2 separate regions of the Homo sapiens genome follow, and region 2 is linked to region 1. Evidence: fine-mapped expression QTL. Tissue or cell type: neutrophils. Region 1 holds a variant in brackets; the other region holds the start of a gene. All regions are shown on one strand. Distances are from middle to middle.

Region 1 (8,107 bases):
GGACACCTGGCAACCCTGTTCCTAACAGCTTTCTGCAAAGCCAACACCCAGTGCTTTCTGGCTGCATTGGCCTGTCCTCATTTCCCCCTGGAAAACTTGTTTTAAACAGTACAGATAACATTCTGCCTCTATTACAATTAGCAGCTTCTCTCACCAGGTTATCTAGTGTGGCAAGTGCTAGTGCGGAGTCACTTAGTATCTTCTTTCAAAACCTCCCAGTGGCTGCCTTCAGGTAGCATGTGAAAAGCTGCTCATGGGGAATTCAGCAGCTGCTTCAGGCCCTCCAGGGCATTTCTTGCTGGCATCTTCTGCCTCACCAGATCGCCCTGATTATTAGTGATCTGGGCCCCCTACCTAATGGAAAACCAGCCACTCTTCTTCCCAGCCCCAATGGATATTGATGAGGGGTCCTTAAATCTGGGATCCTTTCCCCTCCTTGCCCAATAATTGAACTCCTAAAATCCTTTTACTACCTGGGAATCTGCAAAGACAACCTTGAATTTGAACTGGAGCTAGAAGGACTTCCTCCGAACGAATTTGCCCATAGATGACTCTCTGGTACATGGTCTCTGTTGTTCAACTTTCTCTATTCTGAAGTCTAGAAGACACCCTTGCTTCTGAAAGTGGGGCCTAAGAACCTGCAGCCTCACCAGGGAGCTTGGTAGAAATCCAGAATCTGAGGCAGGATTCTAGACTTATTGGATCAGATTCTGCATTTCAACAAGATTCCCCAGTGACCCCCAGGCATCTTCAAATTTGAGAGGCCAGGAAAGTGCTCAGGCCCTGCCCTTCCCTTCCCGTTGGCTGGGGAGAATTCCTGTAATTTGCCCTGTTTACGGGTCCTTAATCTCCAACTTCACTGTCCTCGCTTTCCAAAGAATCCTGAGTGGCTTCCTTCCAACACCTTATCTGTCTTCCCCCACGCCCCTGAAGCCAGGGCCTCTTTTCTTCAAGGCCACCCCCCAACTCATCTCAGGCTGAGGCTCCTCTCTTGAGGCCATATCCCATGGTAGCATTTCTTTGAGGGCTGCTTTTCTGCCGTTTTTCTCCCCAGGTAGGGCCTCTAAAACCGATGGAAGTGAAGTGCTACACCTCAGAGCTGCTTTAGCCCTTAGAGCTGGCCAGGGTCTGAGTGGGCCTCTCACAGGGCCACAGGACTGCCCTTTCCCCCAGCATGCCTAGAAGCTGAGACCACTCACACCACATGAACATGCTATCCTTGTTCCTCTTTCCTGCCAGCCTCAACACAACCAGAATACAGCCCAATAATGGCTGCCTACAAATGGGAGGCACCCAGGGAAGGGAGGGGGTGCTGATTAAGAACCAGCCTGGAGGAGGATCATGGTTTCTCTGAAACAAGAAGGAGGTGAGGGTTGATGCGGAAGGTATATTAGAAATGCTTCAAGCACTTGATGCTTTGAGGGTTTGGGGATTTGAGTTTGGGTTTGTTTTTTAAGCTTAACAATGTGAAAAAGATGTCAAATAACTTTTCTGAACTGTGGCAATCAGAGCCTTGTCCAGAATCATAACTTAATGGCTTTTTGGCTCTCAATTTGATGGTCAGTTTGGCTAACCAACACTTTTTAATTCTGTGTTATTTATTACTCAGTTGATCCCCCCCATAATATGTTAAAAGCCTACTTCCAACCTGTTAAAATGTACCCTTGGAGTGCTGTCCAGATTCACCATTAAAATAGTGTCTTTCCAGTCTTATGTATTTTATTCAGCAGTTACTACAGTACTTTTTTTTTTTTTTTTGACAGGATCTCATTCTGTTGCCCAGGCTGGAGTCCAGTGGTGTGATCACAGCTCACTGAAGCTTTGACCTCCTAGGCTCAAGCTATCTTCCTGCCTCAGGCTCCTGAGTAGCTGGGACTATAGGCACATGCCACTATACCTGGCTAATTTTTAATTTTTTGTAGAAACTGGGTCTCGCTATGTTGCCCAGGCTGGTCTCGAACTCCTGGGTTCAAGCATTCCTGACACTTTGGCCTCCCAAAGTGCTGGGATTACAGGCATGAGATGCCATGCCTGGCCATATTTTTATTTTTAAATCTTTCTATTTAAATAAGGAGAGGGAGAGAGAGAGAAAGCTCTAGGTGCATTTTTTCCAAATGGACACCTTGCCATGTTTTCAACACACATCTAAAGCCTGAATTGAGAGTATAATTTTTCTGTAGATACATCACCTTGAGGAATTTTATAAACTTCAGTTTCCTCATCTGAGAAATGAGGTAGTTGGATTAGATGAACTGGCTCATCAAGTGAGTATAAGGAGCCTTCCAAATTTAAGAATTATTAACATTTCCCGGAAGACTAACCAGGCAATTTTTCTTCTTTAGGTTTGACTTTCTGAGATGTCATGGCTTAGTATTCTTTAAGCAAATTCTGGAATGTTCTTGTCCCTTTGGAATAATTGTAATGTGGATTTGTTCTGTGCAACTGATGATATTCTAATGTGTTTGGGCAGGTTTAAGTCTAAATTTCCAAAGTCTCACACCTGTGGTTTTACCAAAAAGGTACTGCTCAAGGAAACCAGTGATGGGCAAAGGATGCATGGTATAGCTATGATGCAAGAGCGCCCTCTGCAGGCCATGCGAAGATGAGTCTCTTTCTTAAAGGGTAGCTTTTCCGCTCTTTGTGTAGAGTACAACCCTTCCCTTCCTCCTGTAGCATTCTCATCAAGAAACATTTGTTTAGTGCTTACCCTGAGCTAGGCACAGTGTGCTTAGGGCTGGGAACACAAAAATAAAAGCATCCTAGGCTTAAAGGATCTCACGGTCTAATGGGGTACATCCCAATCAGATCATTATAATGCAACCTGAGAGGTGTGTCACTGGAGCTGTGCCTCATGTCCCCATTAGTTTGCAATCACAAGTTGCACACAAGAGCCGAAATCAAACTGTACAGTACAATGCTTTTTTGTTAGGAGAGAAGGACTGGTGACTCACCCTAGCATTTTCTCTTTGCACAGAAACAGATGCCCTGCCCAGAAGCAACACGGCTAATGGGTGCCACCGTGGAGACCCAGGCAACCTGAGAGTAGTCCTGACAGCCAGACCTCCAGGGTGGAAATGGGAAGGTCTACAGAGAAAGGTCA[G/A]GATTTAACAGGGAAATGGAGGAGGGCAAGAATGGGGGTCAGGAGGTATCTACGCATTTTGATATGAAATTAAGAAGTTCATTTAAAATATACAACCAAGGCCCGTGACACTTTTTGTAACAAGATTCTAGCTTATCTTCCCACTAGATTTTGTTGGACTTTTTTCAAATTGTATCTGATTGTGTTTTTCAAACTAGGCCAGGAGGGCCCCTCAACTTCTAAAATACAAAAATTCTTTCTGCTCCTCTTTTCAAATCTTCTCAGATTCTGGACACACCCAGAAATTCCATGTGCCTTTTTACTCCCTTAATCCTGTTAACTTTTTGTCTCTTCTTAGCAATGACTTCCTTTCATTTTAGAGAAAGTTCTGCTGGTAACATACTGTATAAGCCAGGAGAGAAAAAGAACTTGAAAGAGGAACACATTTTTCTTCATTTTTTTTTTTTCAAAAAAGGTAAGGGAAAAAAATAAAGGAAGTGGAGAAATATACTACTCAGTACAGTTGTCAAACAAATTTCTTGGAACCATGGCCTACAAGAATACCTATCTTAACTGCATTGCACTAGAAACCACATTTTCATATTCCTTTTGTGATAATTCTAAGATAATGAATTAGATGTTAGCCATTGTTTTCCAGAATAGAATTTCTGGAGTTACTGGTAGTTCAGGGAATTTTAGTCACAAGATATATATTTTCTGTACCTTTGTGTGTGTGTATATGTGTGTATGCATATATACTTATATACATGCACATATATACACATACACACAAACATGCATGTGCTATAGCTTTTGAATGGAGATATATGTGTGTGTACACACACACACATTCATTCATTCATTTATATCATACAGCTTCTCTGAAGAGCAACAGGAGAAAAATGCAGGAAATATAAAGGCAACCTGGGGTCAGTCCTATGCAGTGAGCTCTTTGAGGTCTCCATCAGAAATAAAAGATTTCAGTCTTTTTTGGCTGGGCACAGTGGCTCACACCTGTAATCCTAACACCTTGGGAGGCCAAGGTGGGAGGATTAACAAAAAATACAAAAATTAGCCGGGGGTGGTGGTGGGAGCCTGTAGTCCCAGCTACTTGGGAGGCTAAGATGGTAGGATCACCTGAGCCAGGGAGATGGAGGCTGCGGTGAGCCATGATCGCACCACTGCACACCAGCCTGGGTGACAGAGTGAGACCCTGTCCTAAAAAAAAAAAAAAAAAAAAATCAATCTTTTCATAGTTATTCAAATTAAAACAACAAAATAGAGATGTGAAGACTTGGCTCAGGAAGATTCAGTCATCTCAACAGTCACTGTAAAGAACTGCCATCAGACTCCTTTTGACTCTAAATGGCAAAGGATACCAACACTGTTCTTCCTAGGAAGCTAATCTATAGTTAAAATAGGCACATTGCATAGCTCTGTGTATCTACAGTGTTGTAATTGTCTAACAGAGTGGAGATACTAAATGTACTCAGTGCATAAAACACATTTTATTTAAAATAGAGAGGAAATTCCTGAGGGAACAATAAAATCAAGGATGTTACAGTAATTTCATGAGCCATCCAGATATAATTACCAACAAATAAAAATAAAATATTTCATAATGCTCTGTTTTATTTAAATATTGGCTTATAAGGCATTGTTCTGTTATTTTCTTTGGTTAAAACAAAGTTTTTAAAATCAATATCTCATACTTGTTAGTATGTATTAGTGGGAAACCTTTATAATAAAGTAATTTTATGTGCAAAAGCTGCCTAGTTTCCAGCTCTGGGGCATTCCGGGAGCACAAACCTCAGGGGCATCATTATGGCCCAAAAAACCTGGGGATTGAGTTGACGGGGCTTTACCCAAGAGGACCTAAAACAACACAGTTAAAGATGGAGAAACAGGCCGGGTACGGTGGCCTCCCACTTTGGGAGGCCAAGGTGGACAGATCACCTGAGATCCGGAGTTCGAGATCAGCCTGACCAACATGGAGAAATCCTATCTCTACTGAAAGTACAAAATTAGCCAGGTGTGGTGGCACATGCCTGTAATCCCAGGTACTCAGGAGGCTGAGGCAGGAGAATCGCTTGAACCCAGGGGGCAGAGGTTGCAGTGAGCCGAGATCACGCGATTGCACTCCAGCCTGGGCAATAAGAGCCAGACTCCGTCTCAAAAGAAAAAAAAAAAAGATGGAGAAACAGAAGCCCAGGGTTCAGCTGTTAAGAGAGGCCTGGCAAGGGACAGTCAATAATGGGAGAACAGTAGGGGTTAGAACCTAGATGCTGAGAATAAGATAAAACAAGGCTTCACAAGGCCTGAATCAACTAGAACTAAGTTTAAAACTAAAAGTATGGATGAGAAGATGTGCAAGACTATTCCTTGTCCCTCTTAAATTAGCAATTTAATTTACACTGAGAAATGTATGGCCATAAGGGACCAAAAAAATAATAATAATGTTGACATGATTGCCTTTTTTTTTTTTTTTGAGATGGAGTCTCACACTGTCACCCAGGTGGTGTGCAGTGGTGCGATCTCGGCTCACCGTAACCTCTGCCTCCCAGGTTCAAGCAATTCTCCTACTTCAGTCTCCCAAGCTAGGATTACAGGTGCCCACCACCACACCCAGCTAATTTTTTTTATTTTTAGTAGAGACGGGGTTTCACCAGGTTAGTCAGGCTGGTCTCGAACTCCTGACCTCAAGTGATCCACCCGCCTCAGCCTCCGAAAGTGCTGGGATTACAGGCGTGAGCTACTGCACCCGGATTGGCCGATTTCCTTCTCAAATTCTAGACATGTGGTGTGACAGCTCTTAATCACAAGCTATTTTATGGGTTTACCTGACAAAGCACTGTTACAGAGACTAGAAATACCCAAAGAAATACTGCATCCTCTCCGCAGACCTACATGGGAATCAGAAGGTGGACTGCTGAACAACAGATCAGCACAAGAAGTTCAAAGAATGAAGTTGCAATGTCATTAGGCTATGATAGCTTAGGCATCCATCTGACTATTGGAGTGTCTTATTCCCATACAGCATCTATATTAGGGCTAGATTTGCTACTGGGGCCCGAAATGCTGGCAGTCCTATGGTATTCAGAGCTGTAAAAAAAGAGGGAATCAAAAAGACTAGGAGTTCATTTCGACAGCCTTGGCAATGTATAGGATTTTGCGATTTTCTTTTGTAAATTGGAGATTCTTTTTTTCATGCATAAAACATTTTTCATAGAACTGTAAAAAGCTCCCAGACCCTTGGTGTGGGGCCTATACTATTCAATGGATAAACTGGCCCTCTCTGTCGTAGCCTCAAAGATGTAGGAAACAGCATTCCTGATAGAATTAAGGGAGTTGGAGGTGCTGGTTACTGGGAATAAGCCACGATGGAAGCTCCATGGGAGCAGAAGCAAAACTGTATCCCCAGCACCTACACAGGGCCTGGTTCCTAGTAGGGAAAGGTAAATATTTGAAAATGAATGAACAAATTACTAGATAAACCAGAAAGTGAAAGTAGAAGGGAGATGAGATAACTAGATTTAAGTAAACAAAACCTCAAGAAATCAGAATTCAAGAAATTATATCAAGTATAAAAGACTCTAGCAGGCTGGACGTGGTGGCCCACGCCTGTAATCCCAGCACTTTGGGAGGCCGAGGCGGGTGGATCAAGTTTGAGACCGGCCTGACAAACCTGGTGAAACCCCGTCTCTACTAAAAATACAAAAACTTAGCTGGGCATGCTGGAAGGTGCCTGTAATCCAGCTACTTGGGAAGCTGAGGCAGGGGAATCACTTGAACCCGGGAGGTGGAGGTTGTAGTGAGCCGAGATCACACCATTGCACTCCAGGCTGGGCGACAGAGTGAGACTCCACCTCCACCCCCCCAAAAAAAATAAAGGCTCTAGCATCTGGGAACCAGAATACAGGTCTAATCTTTCACAGTTCCTGCTGACCTAGGGTAGCATCACATTTCTAGACATTTCCCCAATATATTATTGTGAAAATTTGCAAACAGAGCAAAGTTGAAAAAATTTTATAGTGAACAGCATATACCTACCATGTAGACTACCACTAACATTTCACTATAGTTGGCTTATCACATGTCTGTACCTTTCTCTAAGCATTCGTCAATCCCTGTTTTTTTTTTTTTTGGGCGCATTTAAAAGTAAATTGTAGACATCAGTAGACTTCCGCCTAAATAACTCAGCATGTATATCATTGACTAGGTTAAATATTTGTTGACTTTTTTCTTTTGAAGTAAAATATGTATACAATGAAATGTATAAATCTTATGTGCTTGTGTGTAAATTTCCAAGTTTTAATAATAATAAATGCCTATACCTTTGTATCCCAAATTGCTATCGAGACATAGAACATTACTATCACTTCAGAAATTTCCTTTTTTTTTTTTTTAATTGAGACGGAGTCTTGTTCTGTCACCCAGGCTGGAGTGCGGTGGCACAATCTCGGCTCACTGCAGCCTCAACCTCGGGCTCAAGCAGTCCTCCTGCCTCAGCCTCCAGAGTAGCTTTTTTGTAGAGACAGGGTTTCACAATGTTGCCCAGGCTGGTCCTGAACTCCTGGGCTCCAGTAACCTGCCCACCTCTACCTCCCAAAGTGCTAGGATTATAGGACTGAGCCACCGCGCCCGGCCCCATAATTTTTTTTTTGAGACGGAGTTTTGCTCTTGTCGCCCAGGCTGGAGTGCAATGGCTTGATCTTGGCTCACTGCAACCTCCGCCTCCCGGGTTCAAGTGATTCTCCTGCCTCAGCCTCCCAAGTAGCTGGGATTACAGGCATGCTCACCACACCTGGCTAATTTTGTATTTTTAGTAGAGATGGAGTTTCTCCATGTTGGTCAGGCTGGTCTTGAACTCCCGACCTCAGGTGATCCGCCCACCTCAGCCTCCCAAAGTGCTGCAATTACAGGCATGAGCCACCACACCCAGCCGATAGGCCCCATAATTTTTTTAAGTCTTTTTTTTTTTTTTATTGCTGGGGGTACAGGACAAGGACAATAAAAATGTTGAATCTT
Region 2 (8,107 bases), 39 kb after region 1:
ATGTATATTCATTTTTTATTTTTTTATTTTTTTTTTGAGATAGAGTCTTGCTCTGTCACCCAGGCTGGAGTGCAATGGCACGATCTTGGTTCACTGCAACCTCCGCCTCTGGGTTCAAGCGATTCTCCTGCCTCAGCCTCCCAAGTAGCTGGGATTACAGGCACACACTGCCATGCCCGGCTAATTTTTTTGTTTGTTTTTAGTAGAGACAGGGTTTCACCATGTTGCCCAGGCTGGTTTCGAACTCCTGAGCTCAGGCAGTCCATATCCCTCGGCCTCCCAAAGTGCTGGGATTACAGGCGTGAACCACCGCACCAGACCTAGGAATGTATTTTTAAATGTAACACCCTAGGAGGCAGTTTGCAGAGTGGTTAAGAACACAGACCCTAGAGCCAGAATGTCTGTTTGAATTTAGCTTCATCCTTCATTGACTGTGCAACTTTTGAGTACATTTCTTATTTTTTCTTCAGCTTCCTCATCTGTAAAGTGGAGGATAGTTTTTCCCTCACATGGTTGTTACAAAGACTAAATTAGTTTATTTTTAAAAAACACTTAGAACAGTGCCTGGCAATAATAAGCACTACATAAATGTCAATCACTATTAGTTACTCAAAATTATAATAATGAATTGGTCAAGGCTCCAGAAATATGTCAGTTTTTAGAAAAATGAGTTTTTGTTAATGTTTCTGATTTTTAAAAAGATCACAAATGTGGTTTGGATTAGTCTAAGGAAAAATGTTTTGTTTAATAACTGATTAATGAGTTTTTAAAAACTCATTTCGTATGACCCAGTACAGAATGGGAAATTCACTAACAGAAGACGTCCAGCTGGCATAAAAAACATTAAAGAAAATCTTAAGCATAATGCTAATCTCAACTCTGAAACACAAGCTTTACATTATTGTTCTCAGTTCTCGAGTTCCTGGCATGTCTTGGAAGCAGACAGACTCTTTTTTTGAAGTAGTCATTCTTTCTTATTGCTTATGACTTAGATAAATGACCTTGAGAAACTATTTTTGGCTTTATTTGTGATTGTTATTTAAAGCGATAGCTGTGAAAGAGTGTCAAAACATCTTTAACGTTGTGCTTTTCAAAAAGAGAGGATAATTCCTTTGAAAGTAATAATGAATGGATATTAGAATCCCAGATATTAGAAGGAAAAGTGAGCTCATGGATGGTGTTAATCTGCCAAGACAGGGAAGTCTGTTTCAGGAGCTAACCAGTTTTGCTAACTTCATTCTGCTGAGCACACTCGAGTTGCTAGGATGGGGGCAAAGTGCACCGGGCAGCGCCCCAGCAAATTACTTTTCCAGCTAGGAAAGACTATGGCCCTTCTGCCTCTCTATAGTAATGTCCAATTCACGGCCATTTAGTGTCTGGCTTTTCATTGAAGATGTGACTGACTTGAATGGCCTAAATGTTTATTACATATATAATACATGTACTTCTTTTAATAATATTTCTGAACAAAATTTTTACTTTATAACAACTAATTCTATTATATTTTGTCTATACATGCATTATGGCAGCTTATATCCAATGTGGAGATAAATGAAACACACAAAAAAGGGCAAATCTGCATTTTGAACTGAGAGCATGTTTAAGAGGATTATAGCATTAATTATAAGAGAAAGAATTTGAGAGGCAGTGTTAAAGCAAACTAAATATGGCCTGAGAAGGACTCTGTACTTCTGTATTTGAGTCCTTGTGTACGAACTGTAACCTAGGTTAATAGGCAGACAAGCTTGAAAACCTAATTTAGGAGTATGCACCTGTAACAATAGCTGAGTCTTGGCCAATCCCAGCGGCCATACTTCAACCAGTCATACACTGCTGATTGTTCAAACTGTGTTCAAATAAGGCAAACGCCCCCCTGTAACCAATGCAGCTGTTTCTGTATCTCACTGCTGATTTCTGTACGTCACTTCCCTCTTTTTGTCTAAAAATTTGTTCTGACCACGAGGCATCCCTGGAGTCTCTCTGAATCTGCTGTGATTCTGGGGGCTGCCCAGTCATTCACTGCTCAGTTTAACTCCTTTAAATTTAGTTCAGCTGAAGTTTTTCTTCTAACAGGAATCAGACTGGTAAGCCTTGAATCCTACCTGTTTATCTCCTGCTCACCTGAAGTTGTAAAGTTTAGTACCTCTAGGCCTATTTCTTCACCTATAAAATGGGGACAATACTGACCTTGAAATCTTGAAATAATTCAACTAGATATATATATATGAACGGTAGAAAAATTTTGTCTCTCCAATATTCTGTTAAAATTCTCACCCCCTGCCCCGCCCCCAGCACTTCCCTGGGGTTAAAAAAAAAAAAAAAAAAAAAAATCAAAGCACTTAATTCCCAGCATAACGATGAAGGTTTGTCATAAAAGAAAATTTCTTGTGTGAAATGATTACCAAGAAAGTACTGCATACGCAATGGGGGAAAAGACCAACCCTCAATCAGTTTAATAATCACCTTGGTTATTAAATTCTATGGTAACTTAATTTCAACGTACAAAACTTTCCCTTAGTATTGTAATGAAAACACCATTTATAGAAAGAGAACCAGGAACCTGAAAAATTCCCCTCATTGCATAGATAGAAATCCTCCTTAAAAAACATTTATAACTCGGGTCACTAAAAGTTACGTATGGGAAATCATTATTTAAGTAGTGGGCATTTTATGTCCAGTTTCCCAGGACTTGATGATCCATCCCTAGGGAAGCCTTCAGGATGAAACTGATCTGGGAACAGAGGTTTGAGCTAGGTTAATTCTAGAGGTCGTCCCAGACATTTCCAGATGCCAAGCGGTATCTTTTTTTTTTTTTTTTTTTTTTTGGAGACAGAGTCTCTGTTGCCCAGGCTGGAGGGCAGTGGCGCGATCTAGGCTCACTGTAACCTCCGCCTCCCGGGTTTAAGCGATTCTCGTGCCACAACCTCCTGAGTGGCTGGGATTACAGGCGTGCACCACCGCACCCAGCTAATTTTTGTATTTTTAGTAGAGACGGGGTTTCACCATGTTGGCCATCCTGGTCTTGAACTCCTGACCTCAGGTGATCCGCCCACCTCAGCCTCCCAAAGTGCTGGGATTACAGGCGTGAGCCACTGCACCCGGCCTGAAGATGTAAAATCTACCACGGAAGGATGATCTAAGTGGGGAAGGAGATGACAGGTGACAGCCTCCCGTGTGGAAGCAGAAAGTAGCGGACGGTAGGAGCCGAAGGCTTCCCTCGGGACCCAGCAGACTTCCCGCAGCCTCCTGGGTTCCCGTCACATTCCTCGGAACCCTCAGTGCACCAGACAGGGGGAGCTTGGAAGAGGCAGGTCAAGAATCGCCCCCGACCCCGCCCCAGCGTTCTGCTCCCAGGGCGGCCTCCCACGCGCCCCGGACCACGCAGCCCGATGGGCCAGGTAGGGCGCGTCTCTGCACCGAAAATGCATTAGGGCCCGCGTGAGCCCCGGTGAACATCCACAGTGCAGTCACTAACAGGCATTACTCCTGGGGCCCACGTGAGTCTATTTAGCATGTGAGGGAAACCAGCCACGGCAGGGAGACTGGGGCTCTCCGTGGTGGCAAAGCCTGCTCAACCTGGGCCCGCGGAGGGAAAACTCGGAAGTCATTTCCATTAGCTCCCCTTCCCCCAAACTGATTCGCTTCTGTCAATCCATCCCTAGAAATAATGTCGAGGCCGGGACCAAGGGGTGCTGCGTTTTAAAAATTCTGCATAGGAAAACCCCTGGAAGTACTGAGGGACAGACAGCCCCACTCACCTGTCAGCCCTGGGGGCGTGCGCGAAACCGCCCAAGGAGAAAAAACCAGCTGGTGCGCAGGCGCACGCCGTCCCACATCCGCAGGCCCGCAACGCCACGCCCCCTGCCACGCCTCCGCGCGCCACTAGCCCCACCCGTCTCCCCGGCCCAGCCCGGCCGCTCGCCCTGTCCGGTCTCTCCCCGGCCCCTTGATTCTCCGCGTCTTCCTCGCAGGCCAGCCTAAGCTCAGCCTGCATTGCGCCCTCCCGGCCTAGGGTGTCGCTGTACCGGCCTCCGAGCTCCACATAGACAAGTCCGGACCTCGGGCGGGGGCAGGAGACGGAGCTGAGCGGCGGGGGGCAGTGTCGCCTCGGTCTAGGGACGGCGGCGGAGTCGGTGGTCCCTGCGCGATGGCCACCTCGGTGTTGTGCTGCCTGCGGTGCTGCAGAGACGGGGGGACTGGCCACATCCCTCTGAAGGAGATGCCGGCCGTGCAGCTGGACACGCAGCACATGGGTAAGGGCCCTCCCTTCCCCAGACCCAACGGCTCACGGGGGCCGGGCGCGGCGGGCAGGGGGACCTTCAGGGTCAGAGGGTCCCCACGCTGCCCCGCCGCGCCGGCGACGCTGCGCCGACACCATTTCGTCTCGCAGATCTCTCCAGAAGCCGGCGGACTCCACCTGGGCCCGGTTCTGTGTTCAAGGCTGCGCAGCCCTCTCTGTGTCTGTCATCGCGAATGGGCGTGTGGACCTCCCATTTTCACAGGAATCTCGGAGGCTTCCTCCGGAGATGTCACACGTCCTCGGGCGAGGGGGCGGAGAGTGCCCTTCTGGCGCGCCCCAGTGAAAACCTACACATTTTCAGAATGCTTCTAGGTCCGGTCTTGCTCCTCCTCCTGCCCTGACTGTCGGTCCTGTCTCTTGAGCCCCATCATTTATAGGTTGAATCCTATATTATTGGAAGTAATTTTCCTCTCACCTCCTAAAGTCGAAACAAGGCAGACTGCAGAAGTCTGAAGTCGCACCTCAGGTCAGAACTTGCCATTTCAACTAAAACCTCCCATTGCCCGACTCCTTAGTCATTGTGAGAGGTACTGTAATTTCATCTGACTGGCCTCTTCCCAACAGGTCTAACTGTTGAAAAATAAAATAGCACTTTGCTCCTTTGCATCTTGCTTTATCCTTTTAATTCCAAATCCATATAATTTATCTAACATTCTTCCTCTCCCATCATAGCCTCTTTCACCACCTTATTATTTCTTAGACTTTTCCCAGGTAGTTTCATGCTTCTGGAATGTGGTTCTAGAAGGAGAGATTTCCCAATATAATTATTTCAGTTAGAGTACTGTCTTTTTGTGGATTATTTTATTCTAACTGTACTTCTGCACTTTTGATTTTTTACACGTTTCTGATTGTTTAAAGGACAGTGCATTGAAATAAAAAGGCACTTCTTAATATTTATGATAAAACTCTCTCGCCCAGTTTCCTTATAATTCTGGAAACACTCTGCCCACTGTATTTTTGTATAACACATACTAAATGTGATAACTATATAATCACCTTGTATGTGTGTATTTACTTTTAATTCTCAGATCTCCCAAATGTAGTACAGAACCTTAATACATAAGTAATCTTTAAATTATTTTTTATCCATCATTATTTATAGACGATGGAGTTCAAATTCTATAGTTTTCCTCAGAAAATATTTCCATTTCAGTTACTCATTTACTGAAGTGATATTTATTAAGCAATTATCAGGTGGCAGGCATTGTTATAAGTGCTGAGAATATAGTGAAGGACAACCATACATAATTCCTGGAACTCATGATCAACTGCAGCACTTCTTCCTATCTTTACTGTTAGACTCTTGAATTACTGCAGTCTCCTCTTTGGAGCATTCCTTTTCTCTGTCATCTGTTTCCTCTAGGAAGAGCTGGTCAGATATACTCATTCCACTGTGTTTTATTTCTCCAAAGCTGTCCAGCAACTGTCAGCTACTAACTGGATGAAATAGAGTAATGTCATCTCCAAATTTTCTAACTGCATGGAAGTTTTTTCTTCTTCTTTTCTTTTTTTTTTTTTTTTTTTTTTGAGACGGAGTTTCACTATTGTTGCCCAGGCTGGAGTGCTGTGGCACAATCTCCACTCACTGCAACCTCCGCCTCCCGGGTTCAAGCAATTCTTCTGCCTCAGCCTCTTGAGTAGCTGGGATTACAGGCGCCCACCATCAAGCCCGGCTAATTTTTGTATTTTTAGTAGAGACAGAGTTTCACCATGTTGGTCAGGCTGGTCTCGAACTGACCTCGTGATCTGCCTGCCTCTCAGCCTCCCAAAGTGCTGGGATTATAGGGGTGAGCCACCACGCCCGGCCAGGAAGTTTTTTCTTAGCCTGTCTTTCTATAAACTTAAATTATTCAATCACAGAGGAGCCTGATTTGAGAACCTGAATAAAATGAAAGAAAAGGGTTGTTGAGTTAGAAGAACATGTTTCAAGCATGAATTGATCTTGACTTGAAAATAGAAACACATGGATTTGGTGGTGTGAAAGATTATTATATTAAATAACCTAAAAAATGTGATTGCTTTTTTTTTTTTAACAAAATTGTCTGTATACTTCAAGTGATTCTCCGAGGGTTGTCACTTATTTTAGTGATGTTGTATTACTTAAAACCACTTTGGAATTCCTCTTTTGGAATTTTCTATGGCATAATTTTTGTAAGTATTATCATTGATGCCATATCTTTGGCTTTTAATTGTGAATCGACATTTTAGAAACAAATGACTTCCAAGGCAGCTACTTTGAAAGGGACACCGCTCATTTGGAAATTTATGTTTCTTAAAACATCCTCTGTGGCTATGTTTATGTGGCATTCTGGCTGTACTCAAATTTGCCTTGACCGTCTAAGCAGCACCAATCATTAAAAGTACAGATTCTAAAACCGTCTGTGTACTTAAGAGAAATGGGATAAGCTTAAAATGATTCCCTAATGACTCATAAACACCCTGAATATTCTTTCTTTCTTTTTTTTTCTTTTTTTTTTTTTTGAGAGGGAATCTCGCTCTGTCGCCCAGGCTGGAGTGCAGTGGCCTGATCTCAGCTCACTGCAACCTCCGCCTCCTGGGTTCAATTAATTCTCCTGTCTCAGCCTCCTGAGTAGCTGGGACTATAGGCGCCCACCACCATGCCTGGCTAATTTTTGTATTTTTAGTAGAGATGGGGGTTTCACCATGTTGGCCAGGCTGGTCTTGAACTCCTGACCTCAAGTAATCTGCCTGCCTCAGCCTCCCAAAGAGCTGGGATTACAGGTGTTAGCCACCTCGCCTGGCCAAGAGTGTTATATCCCATTGTGCTCTGCAAAAGTCCTGAGATTCTGATTGTAGTTGATTAGGTCATGTAGCAGTTCTTGACTCAGTTACTGTGGCCAAGAAATGTGGAGGGCACTGATTGCCTTAACCTAGATCAAATGTTGTACACCTGAAGCAGAGATTGAGTCAGCTTTCTTGGAACTGTTTTGATCTCCAGAGGGAAGTCTGTCGGGAGAGGGAGAACAGATACTGCATGTCCACTACAAAGTGCTTAGCACAGCATATTAATTCAACCTTTATCAGTTATTTGATGAGCAGCTGCTCAATGCCAAGCACTGCATGGTCTTTGCCATCAAGGAGGATGCTCTCCAGTTGAAATTACTGGAGGTATATGGAGTAGCCAGATGCAAATTATTTATAAAGGTACTTTCCCAGAATTTGGGGGTTAACTTTTTTAATTAGAAAAAAAAAGATGTTAATGAATTTTTAGTAATCATACAATAGGATCTCAGTTTTGCCTTGTTTAAGGGAGAGCATCTCTTAACCAGTTTAGAATTGTGTTAGAATCTGAAAATTTTGCATTTCTTTTATGTATTTGTACCAAATAATTTTGTTTAACTGTTAATTCAACCTTTTGTTACTATGACCTAATTTTATTTAACCCCTTCTGGAAGAGTCCCATACAGTTCGAATATTCAGATCTGCTTGGCTGGTACAGTTATTGCCAGCAAAGTGGTGGTAGTGGCCACAAGTATGGGGAGTTATGCATTGGTGTATGGGCTATTTCTTACATATTAGAATTATGTAATTCTGTGTATTCTTACATGTTAGAATTATGTATATTCTCTGATAGACATTTTCCTAAATCAAATTGGTACTAGGATCACATCAGGAGACAGTGTCTCTCTTTCTCACTCTCATCTATAGATGTCGTTTCATCTAAAAAATTTTCTACGAGAATAAAGTGCATGTAAGAATGTTAAAACCTTGTTTACATATTTGCAATGTGATTGAAGTAGCTATCTTAATAAACATTTTAAGATCCTAAAGTTAGCAGTTTGTCAC

Direction of the effects. Alleles are on the strand shown, and positions count from the first base shown. SD is a standard deviation of normalised expression in the study named.
For the expression in neutrophils of the gene that starts at base 4,043 in region 2, allele A in region 1 goes with a lower level than allele G (large effect, 1.1 SD a copy in BLUEPRINT).

Evidence for each region. PIP is the estimated chance that this variant, and not a neighbour inherited with it, causes the effect.
Region 2: SPRYD7 starts here. The variant in region 1 is fine-mapped to the expression of SPRYD7 in neutrophils (BLUEPRINT, PIP 0.95).

What each region holds. Positions count from the first base shown.
Region 1 is chr13:49,971,322-49,979,428 of GRCh38, reverse strand. No RefSeq gene overlaps it. Among named protein-coding and RNA genes, the nearest start is that of MIR3613, 21 kb to the left of the region's middle. RefSeq lists silencers at 2,442-2,736, 6,632-6,824. The variant G/A (reference allele first, on the strand shown) is at 3,101.
Region 2 is chr13:49,932,276-49,940,382 of GRCh38, reverse strand. SPRYD7 (SPRY domain containing 7) reads left to right here and starts at 4,043. Exons shown (of 5, transcript NM_020456.4): 1 at 4,043-4,253. The coding sequence starts at 4,148. RefSeq lists enhancers at 3,063-3,112, 3,983-4,232 and a silencer at 3,693-3,942.